Linked DNA regions of Homo sapiens. The protein of the gene in region 1 purifies or fractionates together with the protein of each later gene. This does not show direct contact. Each region holds a gene or a part of one and is shown in the gene's direction. Other genes may lie near its edges.

The links.
Region 2: the proteins of STAM (region 1) and TRAF7 purify together in Homo sapiens (affinity purification with mass spectrometry; 2 studies listed by BioGRID and IntAct, with this or other methods). This does not show direct contact.
Region 3: the proteins of STAM (region 1) and NCEH1 purify together in Homo sapiens (affinity purification with mass spectrometry; 2 studies listed by BioGRID and IntAct, with this or other methods). This does not show direct contact.
Region 4: the proteins of STAM (region 1) and SEC31A purify together in Homo sapiens (affinity purification with western blotting; 2 studies listed by BioGRID, with this or other methods). This does not show direct contact.

What each region holds. Positions count from the first base shown.
Region 1 is NC_000010.11:17,682,143-17,689,171, forward strand, and holds part of STAM (signal transducing adapter molecule 1), read left to right. Parts: intron 1-2,532; coding exon 2,533-2,608; intron 2,609-2,689; coding exon 2,690-2,785; intron 2,786-5,884; coding exon 5,885-6,031; intron 6,032-7,029. UniProt on the Homo sapiens protein: Involved in intracellular signal transduction mediated by cytokines and growth factors. Upon IL-2 and GM-CSL stimulation, it plays a role in signaling leading to DNA synthesis and MYC induction. May also play a role in T-cell development.
Region 2 is NC_000016.10:2,172,758-2,178,634, forward strand, and holds the end of TRAF7 (E3 ubiquitin-protein ligase TRAF7), read left to right. Parts: intron 1-424; coding exon 425-642; intron 643-723; coding exon 724-797; intron 798-1,030; coding exon 1,031-1,079; intron 1,080-1,163; coding exon 1,164-1,291; intron 1,292-1,493; coding exon 1,494-1,576; intron 1,577-2,353; coding exon 2,354-2,393; intron 2,394-2,543; coding exon 2,544-2,660; intron 2,661-2,742; coding exon 2,743-2,865; intron 2,866-3,076; coding exon 3,077-3,196; intron 3,197-3,291; coding exon 3,292-3,423; intron 3,424-3,507; coding exon 3,508-3,627; intron 3,628-3,802; coding exon 3,803-3,817; 3' UTR 3,818-5,372; downstream 5,373-5,877. Other genes in the region: CASKIN1 (caskin-1), read right to left, coding at 5,793-5,877. UniProt on the Homo sapiens protein: E3 ubiquitin and SUMO-protein ligase that plays a role in different biological processes such as innate immunity, inflammation or apoptosis. Potentiates MAP3K3-mediated activation of JUN/AP1 and DDIT3 transcriptional regulators.
Region 3 is NC_000003.12:172,708,056-172,715,064, reverse strand, and holds the start of NCEH1 (neutral cholesterol ester hydrolase 1), read left to right. Parts: upstream 1-3,997; 5' UTR 3,998-4,080; coding exon 4,081-4,218; intron 4,219-7,009.
Region 4 is NC_000004.12:82,860,151-82,867,179, reverse strand, and holds part of SEC31A (protein transport protein Sec31A), read left to right. Parts: coding exon 1-25; intron 26-219; coding exon 220-372; intron 373-2,581; coding exon 2,582-2,818; intron 2,819-3,787; coding exon 3,788-3,862; intron 3,863-4,607; coding exon 4,608-4,646; intron 4,647-5,471; coding exon 5,472-5,549; intron 5,550-7,029. UniProt on the Homo sapiens protein: Component of the coat protein complex II (COPII) which promotes the formation of transport vesicles from the endoplasmic reticulum (ER).

The sequences.
Region 1 (7,029 bases):
TCCCAAAAGTTCCTTCCACCTTATGCAAGTACTAATATGCATTGTCACTATAGATTAAATTTCCTTTTCTAGAATTTCATAAAATGAAATAGTATTGTCAGTACTCCTGTGTCTAGCACTAAATGTGTTTCTAAGATGAATTCAAATTTTTGTATGTATCAATATTCCTGTTTCTTGGGGAAGAGGTATTACATTGTGTTAATATATTACAATTTATCCATTCATCTGTTGATGGGCATTTGGATTGTATCCAGGTTTTGACTCTGAACAGAGCCTCTGTGAACATTCTTATAAAGAGTACTGGGTAGTATGCTTTCATTTTCATGTCCTTAAGGGAAATTATGGTTCTGTGATTTCATTTGTTGTAAGCCTTAGATATTTGTTATTTGATTTCCAAATATTTGGGTATTTTTATGCTATCATTTTGTTATCAATTTGTAGTTTAATTTTGTTATGGTCAAAGAATGTACTTTGTATGACTTTAGTCCTTTTAAATTTATCAGTGTTTGTTTTATAGGACAGAATGTAGTCCATTTTGTTGAATTTTCCATGCACATGAAAAAAAATGTGTATAATGCCATGGGTGGGTGGATTGTTGTGTAATGCCAGTCAGGTCAAGTTTCATGATAGTGTCATTCAGGTATTCCATATCAGTACTTTTTTTTCTTGTGTTATCAAGTCATTGAGGGGGCATGTTGAAGTTTCCAGTAGATTTGTCTGTGTTTCCTTTCGGCTGTATCGATGTTTCCTTTATATATTTTGAAGTTCTATTTTTGTGTTCATGCACATTTAGAATTATGTTTCCTTGGGGGACTTAACCGTTTTATTATTATGTACTGTCTCTCTTTATCCCTGTTAGTATTCCTTGTTATGAAAACTGCTAACGGTAGTGAATAGATAAAAGTGTAGTTGGATTACAATCTTAATCTGCCATTTTTCTAGATGATTGGTTATGTTTCTTCTGTTTTCTCTTTCTGTCTTTTGTGTATCAATCAAATGGTTTTTATGGTTTTATTTTTTTGATTTAAAACTTTGTTTTGAGACAGGGTCTCACTCTGTCTCTCAGGATGGAGTACGGTGGTGCCATCACAGCTCACTGCATCCTCGACCTCTGGGGCTCAAGTGAACCTCCCACCTCAGGCCATTCACTGCGCCCATAGGAGCTGGGACCATTTCTGGCTAATTTTTGTATTATTTTTTGTAGAGATAGGGTTTCACAGTGTTGCCCAGGCTGGTCCCAAACTTCCGGACTCAAGCCATCTGCCCACCTCGGCCTCCCAAAATGCTGGAATTATAGGTGTGAGCTGCTGCACCCAAGCTATTTTATTTTCATTTTTCTCTTAAAAATATTTGTAGTGGTGGCTCTGTGTTAAATTTTTTCATTTTTTTTCTCTCTGTACTTCAGTTTGGGTACTTTCAGCATATTTTCAAATTTACTGATCTTTCATTCTTACCTGATTAATTCCATCCACTTTTTAATTTTACATATTTTTTTGTCTCTAGACTTTTATCTGGGCCCTTTTTAATATATTTCTTCATCATTATGTGGATGATTTCCAGCATGCTTATAATAGCTTATATAAAGTCCTTGACTGCTAATTTCATCATCTTTGTTATTTCTGCATTCTCAGTTGACTGAATTTTCTGCTAGTTGTGTATGGTAGTTTTCTTCTTCATATCATGTCTTCATATCATTTTATTGAATGCTTAGTACTTTGAATTTTATATTTTTGAGCATCAGGTGTTGTATTCCTGTTAAGGAGTATTGGACTTTATTTTTTCAGAAGTGGTTACATTCGTCTGTGGCTTATGTTGTTAGGCAGTATGTAGGTATGATTGAGCTGCATTGCTAGGGTCTAAACTCCCCTGTATATCCACTGAATCCTCTGGATTTTCAATAGATGCTTCACTGTGGCCTCATCTCTGACGACTGTGTGAGCGTTGGATCTCTTTAGCATATCGCCCTCGGTCACTTTTTGACCAGTTTCATGGAGTTTTTCACCTGTGCATGCGTGGGTTTTTCAGAAGGTCTTCACTGATACTTGGAAAGTGCCTCTAGGCAGAAAGTTGAGGCAAACTTCTGGCTTATCTAATTCATTTTCCTTCTTGGATATTATCATTCAGTACTGCCTGTGGCCTCATGTCTTTAAAAAGTTAACCTCAGTGTGGAAAATCTGTTTTTCCAGTTTTCTAATTGTTTACAACGGGAGTGTAAGTCTGGTCTGTTTTTCCACCCTGGCTGGAAGTGGAAGTCATGGCCTACCATTTTATTTTCAAACCTTTTTTTTTTTCCTACCCAGAATTAGCCTGAAATGCCTCATCTACGATTACTAATAAGAGAGCCTGTTAATTTTGTTTGAAAAATTTAAAGGAACTAGTTTACAGTTTTTCAACCGTGTTATTAATAAAAATTAAATTTCCCTACTTTATCATAGTCTCCCTTTTTATCGTAGTCTTTTGTCTATAACAGTTAAGGGGCAGGGGGAAGCTAGATGTATTATTAAGTAATTTTTACTTTTCTCATTTTTTTAGACCTAAGGATTGTCTTCGGTCTATTATGAGAAGAGTGAACCACAAAGATCCTCACGTTGCTATGCAGGCTTTGACTGTGAGTGGTTTCATTTTAATCTGTACCACGAAATTACCTGCCACAATTGAGCCCCTTTAACTTCTGATTTTGTGCTTTTAGCTTCTAGGAGCATGTGTATCAAACTGTGGCAAAATTTTTCATTTAGAAGTATGTTCAAGAGATTTTGCTAGTGAAGTAAGCAACGTATTAAATAAGGTAAGGAGCATTATTTCCAGAAATTAATTAAGGCAGTCTTCTTTCTTCACATATTTTATTGTTTAAATCTTCACAGAGGACTATTCTGTGCTTTTTAAGAAATCCTTTCTAGGCTGTGTCTATCCAGTATATAAATAAATATTATGTTTTGTTGAAGAGACTGCGGATTCATGTAACTTTGAGTTAGTTTTTTCAAGCCATATTAGAGTGTTTTTAACCTGTTCTTTTCCATCATACTTTCATCTGATAAGAAAACAGGTATTTCTATATCTAATTAAATAATATCAGTCTATTTTACATACTGTTTTTGTAGGCACAAGGTATTTTCCTAATGGAAAACCTTTCAGAAACACTGCAAAAAGTCTATGGCACCGTTGAGTTTTTATCTTTATCAATAAGGCTGCTTCCTGGCCATCACAGGATTTTAATACTATACTGCTATTCTTACTGGCTGAACCCACAGCTGGAGTTGCCTCAAAAGTGGTGGCGGGGGAGTTTCCACAAGGGACTGCCCCAAACTGTTCCAGATAGGGCCAGATGAGAGTCCAAAAAAAGAGGCACTAAATGCCAGGGTGATCAGTCTAAAGGATTTATTAGGGGAACTTACACAGGAGGGCTGCAGTTTATAGGAGGGTTTAAGGAATTTGGCTCAGGGTTGGGGCTGGTTTCTGTGTGTTTAGCAACATACTTGATCTTTTAGTGTTTTGGGCCACAACCTGAACAACTTTATCAGTGCCTGAGAATGTTCAAGGCCCCAGTTTGGGTCCAAACCTATGGTGGAAAACATGCAGCTGGCTAGGTCACAGAGCGGGACAAGGCACTCTGTTTTTCTATTGGGACACAGAAAGAAAGCAGGGAGAACTGGGGACCCTACAACTGCCCACTCAACTGTAGAATTCTAGTCACACAGTTCAAGAAATTTTTCAATTTTCAATTAGTAATATGTGAGTTTCCCCAGTAAAAATTTGTGCATTCTAAAAGTAATTATTTTTGGCCTTTTTAGGGGGAGTACTGTAAATCAAGAAAAAGTTTTTGTATGTTAAAAGGGAAAATGCCTCATGTTTTTGGGAAAAATGAATAGTTCCAGGTTACAGTAGAAAAATAGCAGTATAGAAATATAGTAAGAATGTAAAATTCTGTACTTTTCGAACATCATGGTTAAATGATAATTCTTTCCCTTTCCTGCTTTATGCAGTTAATATTTATTTTCTACTAATTAATAAACATTGTCTTTTAATGTCCTGAATGTCCATCGAGATTACAACTGTTTATGAAGAGATTCTAATACCATGTTTTTTGTAATGTAGGTGAAAAATGTGGTATACTTACCTATGTATAATAGTGCAAGCAGCCATTTCCAAAAACGACTTCCTATAGGCAAGAGGACTTCTCTTTATTTTCTGAATGTTTTACAGTGAACATATTGGTTTTGTACTTAATAACATCCCGCCTTTTTTTTTTTTTTTTGAGACAGTGTCTCTCTTTGTCACCCAGGCTGGAGTACAGTGGCGTGATCTCAGCTGACTATAGCCTCTGCCTCCCGGGTTCAAGTGATTCTCCTGCCTCAGCCTCCTGAGTAGCTGGGAATACAGGCATGCGCCACCACGCCTGGCTGGTTTTTGTAGTGTTAGCAGAGATGGGGTTTCACCATGGGGATGGTCAGGCCAGTCTCGAACTCCTGACCTTGTGATTGCCCACCTCGGCCTTCCAAAGTGCTGGGATTACAGGCATGAGCCACCGCGCCCAGCCAACATCCTGCCCTTTTAAAAAATTTCCTTTTATTAAACAAATTAAGTTCATGTATAGTCTCAATAAAGCGTTTGCAAATCCATTATATGCTCCTTGACCAAAATACAGATTACATGTGCACTTAGAAAGAATTTTTTTTCTTCTAATAGAGTAATCTAAAAGTCTAACCTTCTCCATTTTTAAAAGCTTTAGCCAATTATTTAGTAAGCATTGGTTTGAAATACATTCATGACATTTCATAGAGGAGTTATTTCTTCTCTGGTATCTGTGAAGGTTTCTTTATATCTATTACATCAAATAGTAAGACTTCAAATTATTGCCGCTATGAAGATACATCAGTATTTTAATGAACTGGCCAGGTTTTTTCCCTTAATAAGCAATGAGTAAAATAATTTATTTTGAAAACTCACTACATTTATCTCTTTCTTTAATACGGAAGAATAATGCCCTGCACACCTGCCTTAGACTAACTTGAATCTTTGTTATACATCAACCATAAAGAGTTATGTTATTTTGGGCTGGGCACGGTGGCTCATGCCTGTAATCGCAGCACTTTGGGAGGCTGAGGCGGGCGAATCAGTTGGGGTCAGGAGTTCAAGACCAGCCTGGCCAACATGGTAAAACCCCGCGTCTGCTAAAAGTACAAAAATTAGCTGGGCATGGTGGTGCGCGCCTGTAATCCTACTCGGGAGGTTGACACAAGAGAATCGCTTGAACCGCATCCCCCACCCCCCTCTGGGAGGCGGAGGTTGCAGTGTGCTGAGATCGAGCCACTGCAGTCCGGCTTCTGCCACAGGGTGAGACTCTGTCTCAAAAAACAAACCAAAAAAAAAGAAAAGAAAAGAAAGGAAAAAAAGTTATGTTATTTTGAAGAAATTAAATTTTCAAAATGATTAACATGCAGTGTACCTCAAACTAGGCCCCAGATAATTAAGCATCATGGAAAAAATGCATAGTCATGAACATTAAGAAGTCAGGAATTTGGAATAAAGGAACTGTATCATTTATTCTCTCCTTCCCACTTTTTTATTGCTTTGCAAAAAGCAGACACTTTTCCTTGTCTTACTGATGTACAAACCTTGCTTCGTTGCAAAATATTCTGAAAAGTCCTTTCAGATCTCCAAAATCTTATTACCTATTTAATGCTTTAATTTGAAGTGAGATATATATGATGGGTTTTTTCATAGTGTGAACATTAGTTTTATTTCGAATAACTATATTTTCTTGTCTATAGCTATGCATAACTTGTGATTCAAAAAACATCACTTAATAACTTTACTATTTAAAATGTCTGTATTAAATCATTGGCTAGGAAATTGGTGCTCTTTTATTTCTTTTTCTATTTTACAGGGTCATCCTAAAGTATGTGAAAAATTAAAGGCTCTTATGGTTGAATGGACAGATGAATTTAAGAATGATCCACAGCTTAGTCTAATATCAGCAATGATTAAGAACCTTAAGGAACAAGGAGTTACGTTCCCAGCTATTGGCTCTCAGGTATTTTGGGAATGAAGTTGTGTGTGTGCTACAGTTTGTTTCTCTTAAATAGCTATATTTATTTGAATTTTTTTCTTCATTCCCAGGTAATTTTTACTACTTCAGAGGAATTTTCGTTAGCTAATTGTGTTAGTAACTAGTTGTATTGCTAGTTAGTAATACTAGTTTTCTGGCATTCAGAGGTGCCAGAAAAGTATTATAATGGAATATTAATGTGCTCTAACCTCTCTACTTCTTTATAAACGAATTGGTTTAACATTTTGCAGTTTTTGAAATTTTTTGGTATAGTTTTTGTTTGTTTGTTTTTGAGACGGAGTCTTTGTTTGTCGCCCTGGGTAGAGTGCAGTAGCGTGATCTCGGCTCACTGCCACCTCTGCCTCCTGGGTTCAGGTGATTCTCCTGCCGCAGCCTCCTGAGTAGCTGGGACTACATGCACGTGCAGCCAGACCTGGAAATTTTTTTTTTTTTTAAATAGAGGTGGGTTTCACCATGTTGGCCAGGCTGGTTTCGAACTCCTGACCTCAGGTGTTCTGCCCGCCTCGGCCTCCCAAAGTGCTAGGATTACAGGTGTGAGCCACCAGGCCCAGCCAGTACAGTTTTAATAATATACACAAAATAGCTTTATTAATTAGGTAACACTGTCTTTTTAAATGCTCTTAATGCTATAATTTTCTACAAAGAATGATAGCTCAGAAATCAGGATATCCTTAAAAGTTAGGGATGACTTGAGAGATTCTTTTGTGGAGGAAATTTATGAATTCCTCTATTAACAATGAGAGGACTTTAGAAGGGGTAAATGGGAAGAGAAGCACCTGAAGCATTTTCTCCTTAGTAAGAGCCGACCAGTACATAAGTCTTCCTTTCCCCAGTGGATATGGCTAAATAGCTTAACTTTGCTCTCCTGTCCACCCTTGTGCCAAAAAAATTCAGTCTCTAATTTATGTCATGTAGAAAAAAATCAAGAAATGTCTTTTTTATTCCTATTTCTATTTTGGGTA
Region 2 (5,877 bases), on another chromosome or scaffold:
AGGGGGAGCCGAGGGCGTCCAGGAAGGCGGGCGTGGACGCTCCCGCAGCCGGCCCAGCATGGGCGGATTTGAGCAAATGCTGGGGTTGAGAGCTTTGGAGAGGGAGGTGGGGGTGGGAGGAGAGGCAGGAGCCCAGTTCTTCAGGGCAGGGAGGTGGGCAGGGAGGCTGCCAAGCAGCGTGGGTTTTATCCTCAGGAAGGGAGGACCCCTTGAAGAGCTCTGCGGGGGTGACGTGATGGGATCTCACTTGTGAAGCAGACTGGGGGTAGCTGGATGGGGAGGAGGGGCAGGACGGCAGGTGTGGGTGGGGGCAGCTGGACCTGGGGTGCAGCGGCCACAGGGCTGGAGCATTTGAGGGGGATTCTTGGGGATGGGGAGGCACCGGCAGGGACCCGCCAGGCAGGCAGCTGTCCTGTCCCCGCAGGTGCACGTTCATCGGGAACCAGGACACTTACGAGACCCACCTGGAGACTTGCCGCTTCGAGGGCCTGAAGGAGTTTCTGCAGCAGACGGATGACCGCTTCCACGAGATGCACGTGGCTCTGGCCCAGAAGGACCAGGAGATCGCCTTCCTGCGCTCCATGCTGGGAAAGCTCTCGGAGAAGATCGACCAGCTAGAGAAGAGCCTGGAGCTCAAGTTTGGTGAGGGTGGGCACCGGGGCAGGCAGGGGCCTGGCCACTGCTCCGGGCACCAGTGACACCCCCTCTCCTCCTGCTACTCAGACGTCCTGGACGAAAACCAGAGCAAGCTCAGCGAGGACCTCATGGAGTTCCGGCGGGACGCATCCATGTTAAATGTGAGCGGGCGGGGCTGGAGGGGCTGGGTTGTGAGACCCGGGGAGGCCGGCGGCCCCGGCAGGGAGGCCTCCCCTGGCCTTGCCTACACTAGTCAAGATCAGGGGTCTTGTGTGTGGCAGGGGCTGCTGTCACCCCTGCCCACCCCTGGCCCAGGGCAGCAGGGGCAGAGAGGCTGCACTGGCCCCACAGCAGCCCTGCCCACCTGCCCTCTGCCCTGCCCTTGGCCCTGCAGGACGAGCTGTCCCACATCAACGCGCGGCTGAACATGGGCATCCTAGGCTGTGAGTATGGACCCGCCGTGGCTCCCGCCCACCCTCCCCCCCGGGCCCCAACTGGGCCTTCACCCACTGCTCCCATCTCTGCAGCCTACGACCCTCAGCAGATCTTCAAGTGCAAAGGGACCTTTGTGGGCCACCAGGGCCCTGTGTGGTGTCTCTGCGTCTACTCCATGGGTGACCTGCTCTTCAGTGGCTCCTCTGACAAGACCATCAAGGTGGGCAGGGTCCTACCTCAGTCTCTGCAGCCTGGCTGGGCTGGGCACTGCCACATGCCTGGCACTGCCAGCCTGCCTATGGGTGGGACCTTCTGGGCAGGGCCCTCTCCCATGGGCGGGGCTCCCTCACTCATTCCTGTCATGCTGCCCCTTGACACTGGGCTGACCTTGCTGGGACCCACTGTGGCCCTGGTCTCTGCAGGTGTGGGACACATGTACCACCTACAAGTGTCAGAAGACACTGGAGGGCCATGATGGCATCGTGCTGGCTCTCTGCATCCAGGGGTGAGTCCAGGCACATGTGTGATCAGTGATTCCCAGGACAGGAGACGTGGCGCTGCCACCCCGTGGGCCGTGAGCCATGAGCTCGAGCCTGTGTAGCTATGTGTGTGCCCCACCTATAGGGCACCCTCCACCCGGAGCAGCACTGTTTCCTGGGTAGCAGTGTGTGGGCCCTTGTGTGGCCTACACCATCTCCAAAGTTGTGTGTTCCCAATACCTGGCGCAGCCAGCCTCCCAGCAGAACCTTGTCCTGGCCCAGGTGCACCTTGCGCAACCAGAAGATAGGGGGGACCTTAGGGGGTGAAGGCAGGAGCTCAGCTCTCCCCTGCCTGCAGCCAAAGCCCAGGGCATAGAGACTACGGAGCAACTACCTTGGCCACTTTCTTGCCTCCAGGTGGCCCGCCTGCCTCCTGTCTCCTATCGTGAGGCTTTGTGGGAGCGAGCAAGTAAGCGTGTGCGTGAGAGATGCTCGCTTTCAGGAGGCGGCAGCTTGACTGCCAGCAGCCGGCCCTGGGACTGACTCAGGGCTGACGGGTGGGTAATTACCTCCCAGCTCGCTGTCAAATGCTTTCCAGGCAGGCATCAGGGGCTGGCCCGCCCCTTCCAAGGTTCCCATGTGGAGACTGGAAAATAGGCTGACGCTTAAGGACACAGCAGTGGCCTTGGCCCTGGGCCATGCTGCTGGTTCCTGATGGCTGGCATGGACCTCGGGCCCTGCCAGGGCGGTGTCAGCATGGACACAGCTTCTCCCACCTTGACACATTGTCTCTGCTTCCCCAGGTGCAAACTCTACAGCGGCTCTGCAGACTGCACCATCATTGTGAGTGGGGCCTACAGGCGGGTGGGCAGGAGGCGGCCCAGGCCCGCCCCAGTCTGTAGGTGCCCCAGGGACGTGTTTCTCCCCGTCTGGGCTCCAGACTCCAGGTGGCAGGGCTTGGTGCCCTGAGGCTGCCGGTCCTTCCCCAATCAGGTGTGGGACATCCAGAACCTGCAGAAGGTGAACACCATCCGGGCCCATGACAACCCGGTGTGCACGCTGGTCTCCTCACACAACGTGCTCTTCAGCGGCTCCCTGAAGGCCATCAAGGTACGGGTGGAGGCTGTGCCTACGTGTGTGTCACTGAGGCGTCCCTTGCCCGCCCAGCCCACAGTTGCAGCAATCCCTGCAGGTCTGGGACATCGTGGGCACTGAGCTGAAGTTGAAGAAGGAGCTCACAGGCCTCAACCACTGGGTGCGGGCCCTGGTGGCTGCCCAGAGCTACCTGTACAGCGGCTCCTACCAGACAATCAAGGTGCGCTTGGGCACACCTGGTGGCCACAGGGCCTTGCCTCCTACCAGCACTTCCCAGGCCAGCACCTGGGGCTCCATCTGCCCTGTTCCTACCTTCGCACATCCCCTGGCTGGGTGGGTGGGCTGCCCAGCAGTGCTGAAGCCCTGGGGGTGCGGGGGCCCTGGGGGTGAAGCACCTGGCCTGGGACCAACTGGCCCACGATTACTCATAGATCTGGGACATCCGAACCCTTGACTGCATCCACGTCCTGCAGACGTCTGGTGGCAGCGTCTACTCCATTGCTGTGACAAATCACCACATTGTCTGTGGCACCTACGAGAACCTCATCCACGTAAGGCCTGGGCATCTGGGTGCAAGGCCAGACTGTGGCCCCGTCTCCCCCGCCTTGCTCAGTGTCTTTGACCTGCCTGTGCCCACCCCTCCCAGGTGTGGGACATTGAGTCCAAGGAGCAGGTGCGGACCCTCACGGGCCACGTGGGCACCGTGTATGCCCTGGCGGTCATCTCGACGCCAGACCAGACCAAAGTCTTCAGTGCATCCTACGACCGGTCCCTCAGGGTGCGTGCTGGCCCAGCGGTGGCAGGAGGCTCAGAGGGCTGGCAGCTGAGCTCCGGCGGGCCCTCACGTCCCATGTGCCCCCAGGTCTGGAGTATGGACAACATGATCTGCACGCAGACCCTGCTGCGTCACCAGGGCAGTGTCACCGCGCTGGCTGTGTCCCGGGGCCGACTCTTCTCAGGGGCTGTGGATAGCACTGTGAAGGTCAGTGCCCGTGGCTCAGGCCATTCAAAGGGGCTGCACAGGATGGAGCGGGGGTGGGGACGAGGAGCTGGCAGCCCCAGCACAAAGTGGTGGAGGGCAGGTACGTGTGGCAGGTGTGGCTGGGGCAGGGCAGCCGGCCGCAGGACATCCTGGTGAAGCAGCCCTTTCTCTGCAGGTTTGGACTTGCTAACAGGATCCAGGCCAGGCTGTGGTTTCCCCTGAACCAGCCCTGGACCTTTCTGAGCCAGGCTGGCCACATGGGGTGGTCTCGGGGTTTCTGCCTGCCCCGTGGGCATAGGTGGACAGGCTCTGGCAGCCGGGCAGTGCCCTCCCCGTCCCATGCTCGGCGAGCCTCCCTCTACTCGGCACTGTCCTTGCTGCCCAGCCCCTCTCTGGGTGCCAGGTACGACGCTTGCCCCGGCCCACCCTCCATCCCCACCCTCCATCCCCACCCTAGATGGAGCGAGGGCCTTTTTACTCACCTTTTCTACCGTTTTTAGACTGTATGTAGATTTGGTTACCTCCTGGTTGAAATAAATGCTCCACAGACTGTGGCTGTGAGTGGGGACAGCTCCTCGGGACAAGGGGGCTGTGTGTGGCCTTGAGGTTGGTGTGCACAGGCACTGGCTGCTGTGAGTGGGGGGGCATGGGGCAGTTTCCTTTGGTGGACCCCAGGACTTCGGCCCACTCCGGGGCCTCCCCTCCCTGCTAGGAGGCAACTCGTCACACCCAAGCTGCTGGCCTCCAGTCCCATCTCCCCCAACACATGTGCCCCCAAAAAGTGAGCCAGGCACCTCTGTTTCCTGCTGTTTATTGACAGCCGACGGCAGCGCCTTGCCCAGACCTCCCCTGCCCACCTGCTGGAGCCCAGCCTGTGCCGCCCTCTGAGGAGAGGCCTGGGGGGACAGCTGGGCACGTCCACTCGCAGGGAAACACGGGGTGAGACAGCAGGAAGGGGCCCTGCACGCCGGGACGCCACCTCCGCCAGCCGCCTCCACCCGCCCCACACCACAATCGCTGGTTTTCGGCATTTTTTAAATTTTTTTTTTAAGAAACGTCAAAGTTGTGCCCAACACTGTGGATCAGCAAACACGATAGAGGAGACCAGTCAGTACTTCTTGGAGGGGGCAGGAGGAGAGAGGAAAAGGGAGGGCGAGAATGACCACACAACACAGCCTTGGACCATGAGCAGAAGCGTCCGTGGGAACTCCACTGGGGTGGATGGGCTGCCTGCACAGCCCCTGGAGAGGGGGCCAGGCACACCCTCAGAGGAGCTGCAAGCCCGTGGCCTGGCCTGCTACATGCCCTGCTTCCACGTGGCTGCCACGCTGACACACCCACATTCACCAAACCCACCCGCGCCCTGGGACGCAGCCACGCCAGGAGGAGGACACGGCCGCCGAGAGCAAGGCACAACCTCGAGTTCTTGGGGCGCAGAGAACTTAGGAGAGAAGCACGGAGGAGCCCCCGGCAGAGCACCCGCCCCCGGGCCCCAGCCTTCCACCTGTGCTAGCAGCCTGGGGCCTCCACTCTGGCCGGAGGAAGGACCGCAGGCAGACAGCCTGGGCCTCTAACAGCTTTTGTCCGGAGCTAGACTTCGTGTCCTTTCAGTTGGTAAATGGTTTTCTATAGAATCAATAATATTTCTTTCTTTAAATATATATTTGTTAAAGTTATACCTTTTTGTTTCTCTGGGGAAATCCGCCTCAGCTCATTCCCAATAAATTAATACTCTTGATAGCTTATATTCTGGGGGTGCGGTGGGGCAGGGGGGCCCTGACCTTGGTCCCCTGTCCCTTGTGCTGCGCCCGAGCGGCTGGCCGGGCGTCCCGATGGGCAGTTCTGTGCTGGGCCCGGGCCTGTGCGCTGCCCCATCCCTGGTCCCGGGGCGCCCTCCCCTCCCGCGCGGGCAGGAGGCCCAGCAGGTATTGCACGGGGAGCAGCAGGTGGGGAGGACCCGCGGGCGCAGGGTCTGCCTAGAGCCCTTGGAGCCCCCGGCCAGGCGGTCCCCGGTGGGCGCCCCGGCCCGGGTCCAGGGGCCGGAGTTGTGCTTCTGCAGGGCCCTGCCCGGCCGCTCGCGCCGCGCCCAGACGCGCCCATCCTGAGGTATAGGTCAGTGTGCGGGGAGGGCCCGGGCGGCGCGGGAGGGCCCGGCCAGGCGGCGTTCACTCCAGCATGGCATCCAGCTGGTCGGCCAGGTCGTCGAACATGCTGCCGATGTCGTCCAGGATGCTGCCAGTGCTCTTTTCC
Region 3 (7,009 bases), on another chromosome or scaffold:
ATTTCTGCACTCAAACTACACCTTATTGCCTTAGAAACAGAGTATTTTGACTCTTGTTATCATCGTTCATAATTTATGAGTATGTCTTATCTCCCCTATCTCTAAAATATACCCAAAATCTGTCCCCTTGATTCCATTGCTAAACTAAACTGCAGCTCCGGGCCACCATCATATCTCATCTGGACTACTGCAAAAGCCACCTGACAGGTCTTCTCCACATGGCAGCTGTAGTGCTCCTTTTTAAATATATGAATAGATCAGATCATGTCACTTTCCTGTTACAAAACCTCCAATTGCTTCCCATTGTACCAGAATATTCAAACTCCTTAACATGGCCTACATGGTCCTAAATGATCTGCTCTTCTGCACCCACACTACCTCTGTGGCTGAGCCTGTTCCACCACCTTTCCCACAGTACTTCTGCCTCACTAGCTGTTAGTGTTCATTGACCGGGTTAGCATCTTAGAGCCTCTGCACCTGTTCCCTCCACCTCCACAACCCTGCATGGCAGTCTTCTCCTGTCATGCAGATGTCAGCTCAAATGGCATCTCCTTAAAGAGGTCCCCTTTCCCACCCAATTTAAAGCAGCTCCCAGACACCCTGTTCTGTTTTCTCTCTCTCTCTTTTTTTTTTTCTGAGACGGAGTTTTACTCTTGTTGCCCAGGCTAGAGTGCAATGGTGGAATCTCGGCTCACTGCAACCTCCACCTCCCGGGTTCAAGCAATTCTCCTGCCTCAGCCTCCCGAGTAGCTGGGATTACAGGCACGTGCCACCACACCCAGCTAATTTTTGTATTTTTCATAGAGACGGGGTTTCCCCATGTTGGCCAGGCTGGTCTCCAACTCCCAACCTCAGGTGATCCACCCACCTTGGCCTCCCAAAGTGCTGGGATTACAGGCGTGAGCCACCACGCCCGGCCATTTTCATTTTTAACCACTTAGCAGTAGAGCTGAGTGGTAAAGCACATGAGCACTAGGCTCAGACTCTGGGCTCACATACCAGCTGGATGGCTTGGGCAAAGCACTTCATCTTTCAGTGCCTGTTTTTAGAGTAACAATGGTACCTATTTCGTAGAATCGTTATGAAGCTAAATTAGTTAATATATTCAAAGTGCTTACCACAGAATTACCTCATAGCAAGGCAAATTAATGCATGTTGCTTATTAATTTTTGTTTGTTTATTGTTTGGCTCTTCCTTCTGTATCATGCTTACATCCTCCCCTGAACCCCTCCCCACCACCCTCCAAGCATATAAAATCAAAGAGTCGAAACCTTACAGCCTGCCTGCCACAACTTCTTTATTTCCCAGTGTAGGCCAGGTATGTTTGTTGAATGAATGAAGTATTGAAAACAAGTGATGAAGGTGTTTATACTTATCTCAAATTAGTCTCATTTTAAAAAACTCTCAGATCTACAGAGGCTCTCAGATTTCTGATCTGAGAATTACTACAGTTTCTTTGTTCTTTCTTAGTTTCTATCTCTTAGTGTACTGCTTAAGGGAAGCCACACTTCACTGAGAGGCAGAAATAAATATTGCTACTATCACTTACAAACTAGAGGAATATGAGTAAGCCATTTGGCTGCGCTAATCCTCAAGAGGCTCATCTATAACACCGAGTGTGTTAACTGCTGGTGGAAGAGGGAAGGCTGAGTTAGGTGTGGGGATTTTTGGATTTGTTTGCTTGTTTGTTTTTGGTTCGGTTTGGTTTTGTCATTAGCTCTAAGATCTATGTTTTTATGAACATATAGTCAAAATCTAAGAGAAAAGTATTGTCGACAAGGTAAAACTTGGATTTATTTTGCAGATTTCCTGAAAGCAAGTAATGTAACTAAATCCAGTAGTCAGCTTGGTTTATATCTCCAGGATTATTCCTAATCACCCATAAAGATTAGCTTCTGGCTGGGCGTGGTAGTTCACACCTGTAATCCCAGCACTTTTGGAGGCTGAGGCAGGTGGATCACCTGAAGTCAGGAGTTCAAGACCAGCCTGGCCAACACGGTGAAACCCTGTCTCTACTAAAAATACAAAATTAGCTGGGCTTAGTGGCAGGCATCTGAAATCCCAGCTACTCGGGAGGCTGAGGCAGAATGGCTTGAACCCGGGAGGCAGAGGTTGCAGTGAGCCAAGATTGCACCATTGCACTCCAGCCTGGGTGACAAGAGCGATGCTCTATCTCAAAAAAAAAAAGAATAGCTTCTAATTTTCTACACATATACTCACACACAAACATAAACATAAACATTCCTATCTGTTTAGAGTTATGAGTTTAACCAGTAACTTAAAAGACAGAGAGAGAGAGAGAGAGAGAGAGAGAGAGAGAGAGAGAGAGAGAGAGAGGCCAGGTGCCGTGGATCATGCCTGTAATCCCAGCACTTTGGGAGACTGAGGTGGGCAGATCACAAGGTCAGGAGTTTGAGACCAGCCTGGCCAGCATGGTGAAACCCCATCTCTACTAAAAATACAAAAATCAGCCAGGTGTGGTGGTGGGCACCTGTAATCCCACCTACTGAGGAGGCTGAGGCAAGAGAATTGCTTGAACCCAGGAGGTGGAGGTTGCAGTGAGCTGAGATCGTGCCATTGCACTCTAGCCTGGGCGAAAAGAGCAAGACTCCGTCTCAAAAAAAACAAAAAACAAACACCAAAAACAAACAAAACAAAAAAAAAAGAGAGAGAGAACTTGCTTGAAATACCATGAAAGTGTGCCCTTCTTATCAGTTTTCCTTCAATGTTGAAGAAGAAGCCAACTGTTTCCTAAAAATCTCATTATCAGAACCAAATTTATGGTTATTTCACTTCTATTAATTTGATTAAATTAAAATTACCATCTTAAGATGCATAATTATATATACTAGGTGTTTTAAGACCTTCATCAATAAGTTTGGAGTTGTCATCCTACCACTTTCTTGAAACAGGTCTTCTAACTGTTTTCCTTCTGGATTTCTGGTTGAAATTTTGCTAGTGAAGTTTTCTCTCTCCCATTCAGTACTCACCCACCCCTCCTCACCCCCAATCATTAACAAGAAATCTGGGTTTAAGTGTATTTCTGCTACCATTGACTCACTGAAAGAATTTTTCAGGTGATATCCACACGTTTCTCCAATAAAAAGTTATTATTTTTTCCCTTTGTAGTAATTTGTGGAGAGATCTTCTGATGAAGGACCAAAATTCTGTGTCAAATTTTTACCCTCTAGTTTTAGCATTCATTTATGATTTTCTATGGATACTAGCTGGCATTCTATTTTAAGAAAAGCCTTTCTTCTTTCCTCATTTATTTATATTAATATAGATTGTTGAGTTTTATTTTAATCAATGGGTTATCCATTATGATGATTTATATTGATGGTAAAATTATCCCAGCTTCAGCCACTGGGAGACCCTTCAAGCTGGCAGCTGTGGACCTTTGACCAGTTCCTATCATTTTTTGAGCACTTCCGCATCTCTGGCACAACAGGTTCATCTTGTACTTTACAGCCCCAGCCCTGGTATCAGCCTTTTCTCCAGAGGTTGTGTCAAAAAGCCGTGGTTCCTCTTATTGGAGCATAGGATTTAGAAACCAAGACTTGGGTGCTAGATGTACTACTGGCCTTTCATTGCTTGAGCCAGAAGAATTTAATATCTTCTTTTGCCATATATCAGCTAGAACTTACAAACCACTCCAAGTCTGGCTCCAGAAAACAGAATTTTTATATCCTTTCTCAGTACTCTGAGTCAGAATGACCCACTTGCTTTGTCCAGAGACTCGTCACACTGAAACTATTTTCCGTTTGAGACCTTCCAGGAGGAAAGCCATCCTCACACGCATGCAGTACAAACCAGTGTCCTCCAGAGTCCGCTGTGCCTACGGCCAGAGCAGCGACAGAGCCTTCCTCAAACCTGTAGTGACTGCCACACTTTGCAAGGACACCGTAGAGGGGGCATGTCCGCGCTCCAACTTCCTCCCGACGCAGCCTCTGATTGGCTCCTGGGCTTATAAGAAACGCGTGAATGAGCAGCTGCCGCGGGCAGAAAGTTGCCGGAGGTCTCCGGGTGGTATCGCCCTTTCCTCTTTGCCAGCCCGCTGGCGAGCCGAGCCAGGGCAAGATGAGGTCGTCCTGTGTCCTGCTCACCGCCCTGGTGGCGCTGGCCGCCTATTACGTCTACATCCCGCTGCCTGGCTCCGTGTCCGACCCCTGGAAGCTGATGCTGCTGGACGCCACTTTCCGGGGTGCACAGCAAGTGGTGAGGTGCAGCCCAGCGCTGCTTCTCTCTTCCTCCTCTTACGCAATATTTGAAGGGGATACAAAATTCCTCCGCCGGGTTCCACGAAAACGCAGGTTTTTCCTAATGCATTGAGGCTGTCGCTTTTTGAGGTGGTCCAGTCGGGAATTTTCAGGGTATCGCATTCGCCTCCTTGCTAGCAGCGGGCTAGATCTGCATTTCCCCGTCTGCGTTTGTGACGGGGAAGAAGTGCTTGAATAGAATTTGACAACTGTTTAAACCTTCGTCTGTCCTAAATATCTTCCTCTTCCTTGGTTTGCAACGTCAAAAGGCAAATCCTTAAGCAGTTTATAAACCACCCTTCTTCACACTGTCGTTCTCCCATAGGGACCGGCAGAGGATAAATATTTTTAGGAGAGCTCGGGAAAAGCAGGCTCTGGTTCCTGGGAATGCAGCCACCTTAGAAGCAGAAGCAGGCAAGGGCAGTCTCGCAATGTCCCCAGGCTGTGGAGCGCTCCGTTCCCGGAGACAGCAGGCAGGGCTCTCCATCCAAGCACTTGAGGAACCATAGGGATCTCTCGTTTCACCCGAGGCAGATCTCAGCTCAGCCCAAGAAAGAGGACTGGGAGGCTGGGCTGGCTGAAAGGAGGTGAGGAGGCGGCAGCCCTGGTTTGCATGATGCATGTTTTCTGCTTGCCCTGCAGCATTTATTTTATGTCCTTGGCTGTCAGATAACCTTTTCCTGAGCGAGGTTACCTGCCTTAACCTGGGAGGGTAACATTTCTCTCCACTGTATCATGGGCGTGTGTTCATTCCTTCCATACACAGGAAAATATAACTGTCTCTGGTTTATTCCATGGTAAGAGGCATTATTTTTAGTGTCAGAGAATCTAAAATCTAAACTACAGTCTGCAGCCAAGGCTGAGCCCTCTGATTGGACAGTATTTCTGAGCAGCCTGCTCTATCTAAACTCTAACCTTCTCCAAAACCAAGCCTCCTCCCTCCCCACAACCTTGGGCTTTAATCTCAGAATATTTTTATAAACTCTTTCTTTCAGAAATGACAACTAGAGAAAGAGAAAAAAAATCATTTCAACCTGAGAAAGCTGATTTTAAAAAAGTCATGATTTTCCCAGAGGGTTTATGTTCCTGTTCCCTGTCCACTCATTATGTGTAGGATTACATAATCTGTGGGGCTTTATCCTATGAAAAGTCCCCTTACTAGGATATTGCAGCACATTCCTAGCGTGGATTTGCTTTTCCTGAATTCAGCCACATTCTCACCTCCAAAGCCCCTTTTGTCTCTTAGGAAAGGTCTATGAAGCTATAGACCCCTGCCCCCCTTCTTTTCCTCTTGCTTCCTATAATGTTGACATGGTGAAAATGATCATCCCCTTCTTTAGCACTGGTGTCAAGAAAGTCAGTCTTGTTGTAGGAAGCCTTGCATTCCCTCTCCTCCCCCATGAAATTATGTAATTTGAAAGTAATACCCTTCAAAGATTGAGGAACAGTGATGTTTACCTGGGTGGGTTAATGGTCTACTACAATAACTTAAACAGAGGAAAACAGGAAAAAGATCAAACTGCTGTGTTGGCTGCAGAGATTATTCTTAGTTTTCAGGTCACCAAAGAAGTCTTCTCCATCATAAGTTAATCTCGGACAAGCTAGGTTTGGAGAAAAGCTTTTCTTTCCCAGCTAGGCTTGCCAGCCCATTAAGGACAAGGCTGTGTAAGGTCCTCCACAGAGTATACCCTCAGGTGGTGCTTGGGAATGATAGTGGGTGTAACCTGAAGTCAGCAATAGATGAGGTAACCAGTGTTCTCACCTGACACTGTGGCTCAGGAGTGGATTTGCAGAAAAATGGCTCTTATCACTTCTCCTCTAAATTGTGAAATATCAGAAAGATCATTATGATCAGATGGAAACATATTCTACCCAATAAAGCAATTTTCCAGTGTCACCTCAAATCTTCCTGAGTTTTCCCTGTAAAATAGGGCAAAAAACTACCTTGTAGGTTTGCTATAAGGTTTAGTAATGTATTTAAGTGCCTGGTACTTGTAGTGAGTCTTCTAGTTGTCCCCAAGGGTCCATTGTGGATTGTGGGAACATCTATAAGAATGCTTACCTTTTTTGAAGCAATAAAATAAATGTAAACTGGAAGTAATTTATGTGATTGAAACCTGGAGTGCTACTACTAAATTACCTGGTGTCATGGCCTGGGGCGGTGGCTCACGCTGTAATCCCAGCACTTTGGGAGGCCGAGGCGGGTGGATCACGAGGTCAGGAGTTCGAGACCAGCAGCCTGGCCAACATAGTGAAACCTCTTTCTACTAAAAATACAAAAAATTAGCCAGGGCTGGTGGCAGGTGCCTGTAGTCCCAGCTACTTGGGAGGCTGAGGCAGGAGAATCGCTTGAACCTGGGAGGCGGAGGTTGCGTTGAGTCGAGATTGTGCCACTGCACTCCAGCCTGGGCAACAAGAGTGAAACTCTGTCTCAAAAAAATATATAAATAAATAAATTGCATGGTGTCAACCTCGTTACTCAGATAATTTTAGTTTGAGTTGATTGGCTCAACTACAAAAGCAATTTAAGCTGTTTGAGAGATTAAGCTCAGCCTATTTCCTAAGACAGCATCAGCTGCCTACCATTAAGAAATGTGAATGTTAGTTTATTCTGTTGTCATTGGCAAATACTTTATGCTTTAGCATTTTTTATGTCCTTTATCTTGTGCAGTGAGTCAGACTATTGAGATTATGTTCATTGTGCTTTTTTTCCTTGGGGTTCCCCATATTCCTTAAGAAGCAGCTACTTA
Region 4 (7,029 bases), on another chromosome or scaffold:
TTTAAGACAGAAACAAGTTGACAAGGTAATAGGAAGTGTTAAAGTTTTCTATTATAATGCCTGAAAAAAGTATGTGTTGTGTAATATTTTGAAATGACTTCACTGATTAACAATGCTGGTTAATTGGACAATTGTGATCAAAAATTTTTTTGGATATGACTGGAAAAAAATGAAACTTTGTGTATGGTCGGATGCTTATGTTATTATTATCTTTTTTAGCTTTCATCATCTTTTGGGAATCTTGATCCCTTTGGCACAGGACAGCCCCTTCCTCCGTTACAAATTCCACAGCAGACTGCTCAGCATAGTATAGTGCTGCCTCTGAAGAAGCCGCCCAAGTGGATTCGAAGGCCTGTTGGTGCTTCTTTTTCAGTAGGTGGATTTTGTTTTTATGGTCCATAGGCACAAAGGACTTTTTATACCAAAGTGTTATTATAGAGTCACTCTGATGGAAGCAATCAGGGTTTAAGTTGGGATTTGAGATGTACTTGTGGGTATTTCATCATTCAAAATGGTTTCTCTGAAAAATTGGAACCTACTCTTTTTTTTCCCTTTTTTAAAAATCATGGTAAAATATACATAAAATTGATCATTTTGTTCATTTTTAAATATACAGTTCAATGGCATTAAGTACATTTACATTGTTGTTGTGTAGCCAACACTTTATATTCCTCCCCTCCTCCATTTTTTTGTTTGTTTGTTTGTTTTTTTGAGACAGTCTCACTCTGTTGTACAGGCTGGAGTGCAGTGGCACAACCTTGGCTCACTGCAACCTCCGCCTCCTTGGTTCAAGCGATTCTCCTGCCTCAGCCTCCTGGGTAGCTGGGATTACAAGCACGTGCCACCACACCTGGCTGGTTTTTGTATTTTTAGTAGAGATGGGGTTTTACCATGTTGACTGGCCTGGTCTTGAACTCCTGACCTCAGGTGATCCACCCGCTTCGGCCTCCCAAAGTGCTGGGATTACAGGCATGAGTCACTGCACCCGGCCCTCCTCCCTTTTAAATTTGTCTTCCTTCTCTCTCTCTCTGTCTCTCTTTCCCTCCCTCTGTCTCTCTTTCCCTCCCTCCCTCCCTTCTTTTTCTTTTCTTTTCTTCTTTTTTTCTTTTCTTTTTGCAGGGAGTGTCCTCCCTCTTCTTCATCCTTTTAGCTTTCTTTTTTAATTGCCAGCTTTTTTTAATGGTAAAAAATGCATAATATAAAATTTTAATTGTAAAAAATGCATAATATAAAATTTACTATCTTAACCATTTTAAAATATACACTACAACCATTTTTAAATATATACTACAGTAGTGTTAACTATATACACGTTGTTGTGCAACAGATCTCTAGAACTTTCTCATCTTGCAAAACTGAAACTCTGTGCCCTTGAACAACAGCTCCCCATTTCCTGTTTCCCTTGAATCCCTGGTAACCACATTCTACTTTGTTGCTAGGAGTTTTCTACTTTAAATTACTCATATAAATGGAATCATGCAGTACTTGTCTTTTTGTGGCTGGCTTATTTTACTTAGCTTAATGTCCTCAAGGTTTATCTGTGTTGTAGTGTGACAGAATTTACTTCTTTTTAGAGGCCAAATAATATTGCATTGTATATATATATATATATATATATATATATATATATATATATATATATACCACATTTTTTTTTATCCATTCATTTGATGGTCATTTTGGTTGCTTCCACCTTTTGGCTATTGTGAATAAATGCTGTGGTGAACATGGGTTTGTAATTATCATTTTGGGATCCTGCTTTCAGTTTTTTGGGACATATACCCAGAAGTGGGATTGCTGGATCATAGGATGGTTCTATTTTTAAGTTTTTGAAGAACCTCCATACCATTTTATAGCCGTTTTACCATTTTACATTCTCACTAGTGGTGCACAAGGGTTCTAGTTTCTCCACATCCTCTCTAGCACTTTTTGTTTGTTTCTTCCTTTTACATTGCTGATACCTTGCCTAATTCTTTCATGCCAAACTTCTAATAGCTTGATTTCATATTTGTTGCTTGTCTTTTCCCCCTCTAATCTCTACTACATATTCCAAGATTAATCTTCCTAAAATGGACCTTTGAATATGTTTTATGTCACTCGTAAGTCTGTTCTTTGGATCTGCTTAATCTTCTCATCGTCCTATCTGGTCTTCTCTATCTGGGTGGATCACTTGAGGTTAGGAGTTCAAGACCAGCCTGGCCAACATGGTGAAACCCTGTCTACTAAACATACAAAAGTTAGCCAGGCATGGTGGCCGGCACCTGTAATCCCAGCTACTCAGGAGGCTGAGGCAGGAGAATCACGTGAACCCAGGAGGCAGAGGTTGTAGTGAGCCAAGATCCCACCTTTGCACTCCAGCCTGGGTGACTAAGAGCGAAACTCTGTCTCAAAAAAAAAAAAACCAAAAAACCAAAAAAGTACATTTCATCTAGAACAGAAATTGAAGTGGTGTCAGACTGTGGCGCATGAGAGGTTGTATCAACTAATTTCATCCAGATTATCTGTTTAGGCCACTTTATAAGCACTTTTTTTGGCCATATCCTTGGGTTAACACTGAGTTTGTTCATTCTCTCTTTTATAGTTTGGAGGCAAACTGGTTACGTTTGAGAATGTCAGAATGCCTTCTCATCAGGGAGCTGAGCAGCAGCAGCAGCAGCACCATGTGTTCATTAGTCAGGTTGTAACAGAAAAGGAGTTCCTCAGCCGATCAGACCAACTTCAGCAGGCTGTGCAGTCACAAGGATTTATCAATTATTGCCAAAAAAAAATTGATGCTTCTCAGACTGAATTTGAGAAAAATGTGTGGTCCTTTTTGAAGGTAAAGTTGCTGTTTAAAGCTATATTATTTCATTATCTGCAAATTTAACTGTTCCTTTATATTCTAAATCTGTCCTCCTATTAAAGAAACAATTGAAAAAGTGTGATTTCAGCAATTCATCATGAAATTAAGAAGCCTTATAAAGAGCATACAACCTAACTTATGTCCAGAGTTTTTCCTTCTCTGCTTTGAAAAGTGTAATATGAAATACATTTTTAATAAGTAAAAAAAAATAATAATAGGTCTGTTTAGAGGAGAGCGACATAGTCAGCACACCTATTTTGAAGATGAGTACATAGAGTTTACTATAATGAAAACAGAATATTTAACATCTATAGTAGATCTAGTTAAGGAAAATGAAAAAAGAGGAAGAGGAATAGAGGAGAGAGGTTGGAGGCATTTTTCCTTTTACTTTAAGAGGAGTTAGATTAGAATAACAAATAGAATTTCCTGGTTGGTCATTTTGCCTCCACTGGAATGTCTGTTTCTTTATACGGTACTGGTTTTTCAAAGGTAAAGCAGTCTTGAATACAGTTAGGTTAAAGTATAAAATTAAAGAATTTATATTTTGTAATAATTTTGGGAAAGAATTTTAGGACATAGAATATTCCACATAGTTTGAGTTTTGTATCAGTTTAACCTTTGGACATAAGTTTGTATTTACAGAAATTACTGTTCAAAAGTAAGCTTTATTCAACCAGGATAATTAATTACTAGTATATTTACTATTAATAAATAACTTATTTAAAAAAATAATTCTGGGCACATGTTCTCAGGACCTCCTGAGGCTGGGTCTCCAAATAAAAAACAAAAAAACCCACTATTCTTTGGATTCCTTCAAACAGTGAATCTTTAGAATGTAGACTTCAGATATTTTTAATAATTCTCTTTGGAATTTGATTCATTCTTATAAAAATTCGGCCTTTAAATGTAGGTCTTTGTTTTAAGAATATGTCTTTTTTTTTAAAGGTAAACTTTGAGGATGATTCTCGTGGAAAATACCTTGAACTTCTAGGATACAGAAAAGAAGATCTAGGAAAGAAGGTAAACTTTTGGGAAAGTTAGATGGCATGCTCTTTATGAATCATACTTTTAAAAAATAAAGTTCTACACAGATTATCTCAAATCACCCAATAAACATTTAATAATAATTTGTGTTTGGTTGCCAGCGTTTTTTCCCTTTTTCTTTTTCTTATTCTCCATCATTACCCACAGTGGTTGCCAGAGTTTTGAATACATATTGATAAATGACTATGTAACTTGTATTAGCCTTTCATCATTCTTTGGAAATGGCTAGAGTTTTCTATAGCATTGCAGGTTGTTGCATGTGTGGTAGAGGTATACTGTGCACTTTAAGTGCATATTGAAGATTAGTGCTCTTTTGATGTCAGGCAGAACTAACTAAGATCACATCACAACCCCACTGCTTAGTGGCTATGTCTTTGCTCACTCCTTTAGAGTTTTATATTTAACTTTATTAGTAGTCTAAACTTCTTGAGGCTGTAACTTTTTTAGGCTTGTAAGAGATTGATATGAAAGTTTTACTTGCATGCCTGATGGCAAAAAATGAGGAAATAGAATGATTGTCGGATTATTTCTAATTACTTCCATGTGAAAGAAGCTAGCACCATGGAGAACCAGTTCTGCATAGCTTTTTTAATTTTTTTAAACATACTATTCCTATAAGAACTTTTGTGGATTTTCGCCAGTGAGAAGCAAGAGGTGAACATTTGCTGGATGCTCTGAAATAGAATTCCATGTAGTAGGTGAGCTGTTATTTTTATTTCAGATTGCTTTGGCCTTGAACAAAGTGGATGGAGCCAATGTGGTAAGAAGGCCTTTAAAAATAGCTACCTTCTAAAACTTTGGCTAGGTCATAACGAAGAAGGAAATATCATTTAAGAAATTTGTGTTTTATGCTTTATGGTATAAAAATAAATGCTTATTCTAGATATTTTAATAAATTAATAATTCTCATTTTAAAATAACATGAGCTTAGCTGGTAGAGCATTCCTTTCTCTTGACATACATATTTGAATTTTGTAAAGCAGGAAAAACAGAATTAATGACTACTCAAATACTTAAGATAAAATTTTTTTTTTTTTTTTTGGCCAGGAAAAAAAAAATGGTAGGAAAGAATGGGAAAGTGGGCCGGGTGTGTTGGCTCATGCCTGTAATCCCAGCACTTTGGGAGGCCGAGGCAGGTGGATCACCTGAGGTCAGGAGTTCAAGACCAGCCTGACCAACATGGTGAAACCCTGTCTCTACTAAAAATACAAAAATTAGCTGGGCGTGGTGGCACATGCCTGTAATCCCAGCTACTTGGGCGGCTAAGGCAGGAGAATTGCTTGAACTGGGAGGCGGAGGTTGCAGTGAGCCGGGATCGTGCCACTGAACTCCAGCCTGGGCGACAGAGTGAGACTCGGTCTCAAAAAAAAAAAAAAAAAAAAAAAAAAGAATGGGAAAGTGTTAGCAGTAATAGTTCTTTGCTTTTCCTCTAATGGTATTTCTCAAATAAATTTACTCACTGTTGCTTCTTATGATTAAACTAGCTCTGAATGTTGTTGGTTGGGTCTTTTGTCTTCCTGGTTCACTAATAGCCTTTTAATACTACATTCTTCACCTTCCCCTGTAATTGTTTTGTGTACCAAAGGCTCTTAAAGACTCTGACCAAGTAGCACAGAGTGATGGGGAGGAGAGCCCTGCTGCTGAAGAGCAGCTCTTGGGAGAGGTACTTATTTTTTTTTCATATTATATTGGACAAATTTGTGATATTTGTGTATCTCACATTAAAATAAGGAAAATTTTCTTGACTACTTATGGCAAAATAAAGTTGAAGTAAATTGTTTTCTTTGAGATGTTTAGGATAGGAATCTATCTACCTATACTGACAGAAGTATCATCTCCAGACTCTAGTTCTCCAACCTTGTTTCTGGATTATATGGTTTAAAACTAACAGTTGATGTGAGATTAACATAATTTGGTCAGATGACTCTCAGGATGTCAAACTGAAAAGAGATTTTATTCAAACATCCTCACTGCATTGCATTGCATGTAAAGTTAATGTTTTTCTTGGCCTATAATTTTGGGCCAACTATCAGTGGCTAATAGGCCTCTGAATTAGTACTGAACATGGAGTTGAAGTAAAGGATATTTCACTAAACTTATTGTCATGATTTTCAATAAATGTGTCCTTAGTTGATAATTTTTGTAAATAATTGAGAAGAGTCCTTGAACACAGAGTTACATCATTAATTTTTCCTTTTAATTTTCTGGGTGTTTTTTTTTTTTTAACCACTAATGAACAAATCTGTAATTTACTTTTCTTGCTTTCTAATTTTATTTCATCTTGGAAAATTAATCAACAAGTTCTTCTCATCTCATCTTTGGCTTTTTCATTGTTCTTTGTGATATCTTGACTATGGAATGTTATGTATAATTTTTTACTAAGTTATAAAAATAAGTAAATTTAGTCTATTACAAGATGATTGCAAAAATCATTCTCCTTAGAAGTGGATCTCCTAGAGTTTAATTAACAAGGGAATAAAGGATATGGATAAAATCTTTACTAAAACTTTGAACTAGGCCAGGCATGATGTTTGCTTATGCCTGTAATCCCAGCACTTTGGGAGGCCAAGGTGGGAGGATCACTTGAGGCTATGAGTTCAAGACTAGCCTGGACAACATAGTGAGACCCTATCTCTAAAAAAAAAAATAAAAAATTAGCCAGGCGTGGTGGCACATGCCTGTAGTCCTAGCTATTTGGGAGGCTGAGGTAGGATCACTTAAGCCCAAGAGTTCGTGGTTGGAGTGAGCTATGATCACACCATTGCATTCCAGCCTGGGTGACAGAGCAAGACCCTGTCTGATTTAAAAAAGAAAAGAACTAATTTTGAGAATATTTAGACAGAATTGTAAGATACATAGAGAAATGTACTTTCATTTATGTACAACTAGACTATGTATTATCAAATAGAAGATCATTTGGGAATGCACTCATGAATAATAGGTAAGAAATATATGCATTTAATGAAATAGTAGTCATCAATGTGTACTTTTGGTTCTTTGAAAAAATGTGTTTAAGGAGGTAAAATCTTCCCCTTTGTCTCAATGAGCTATTTGTTTCATAGTAGCTTACACATTGAAGGCACTCAATACCTAATAAATTGTGCATTTTTTGACCTTATATCTCGTTCAGAAGTCCATAAATA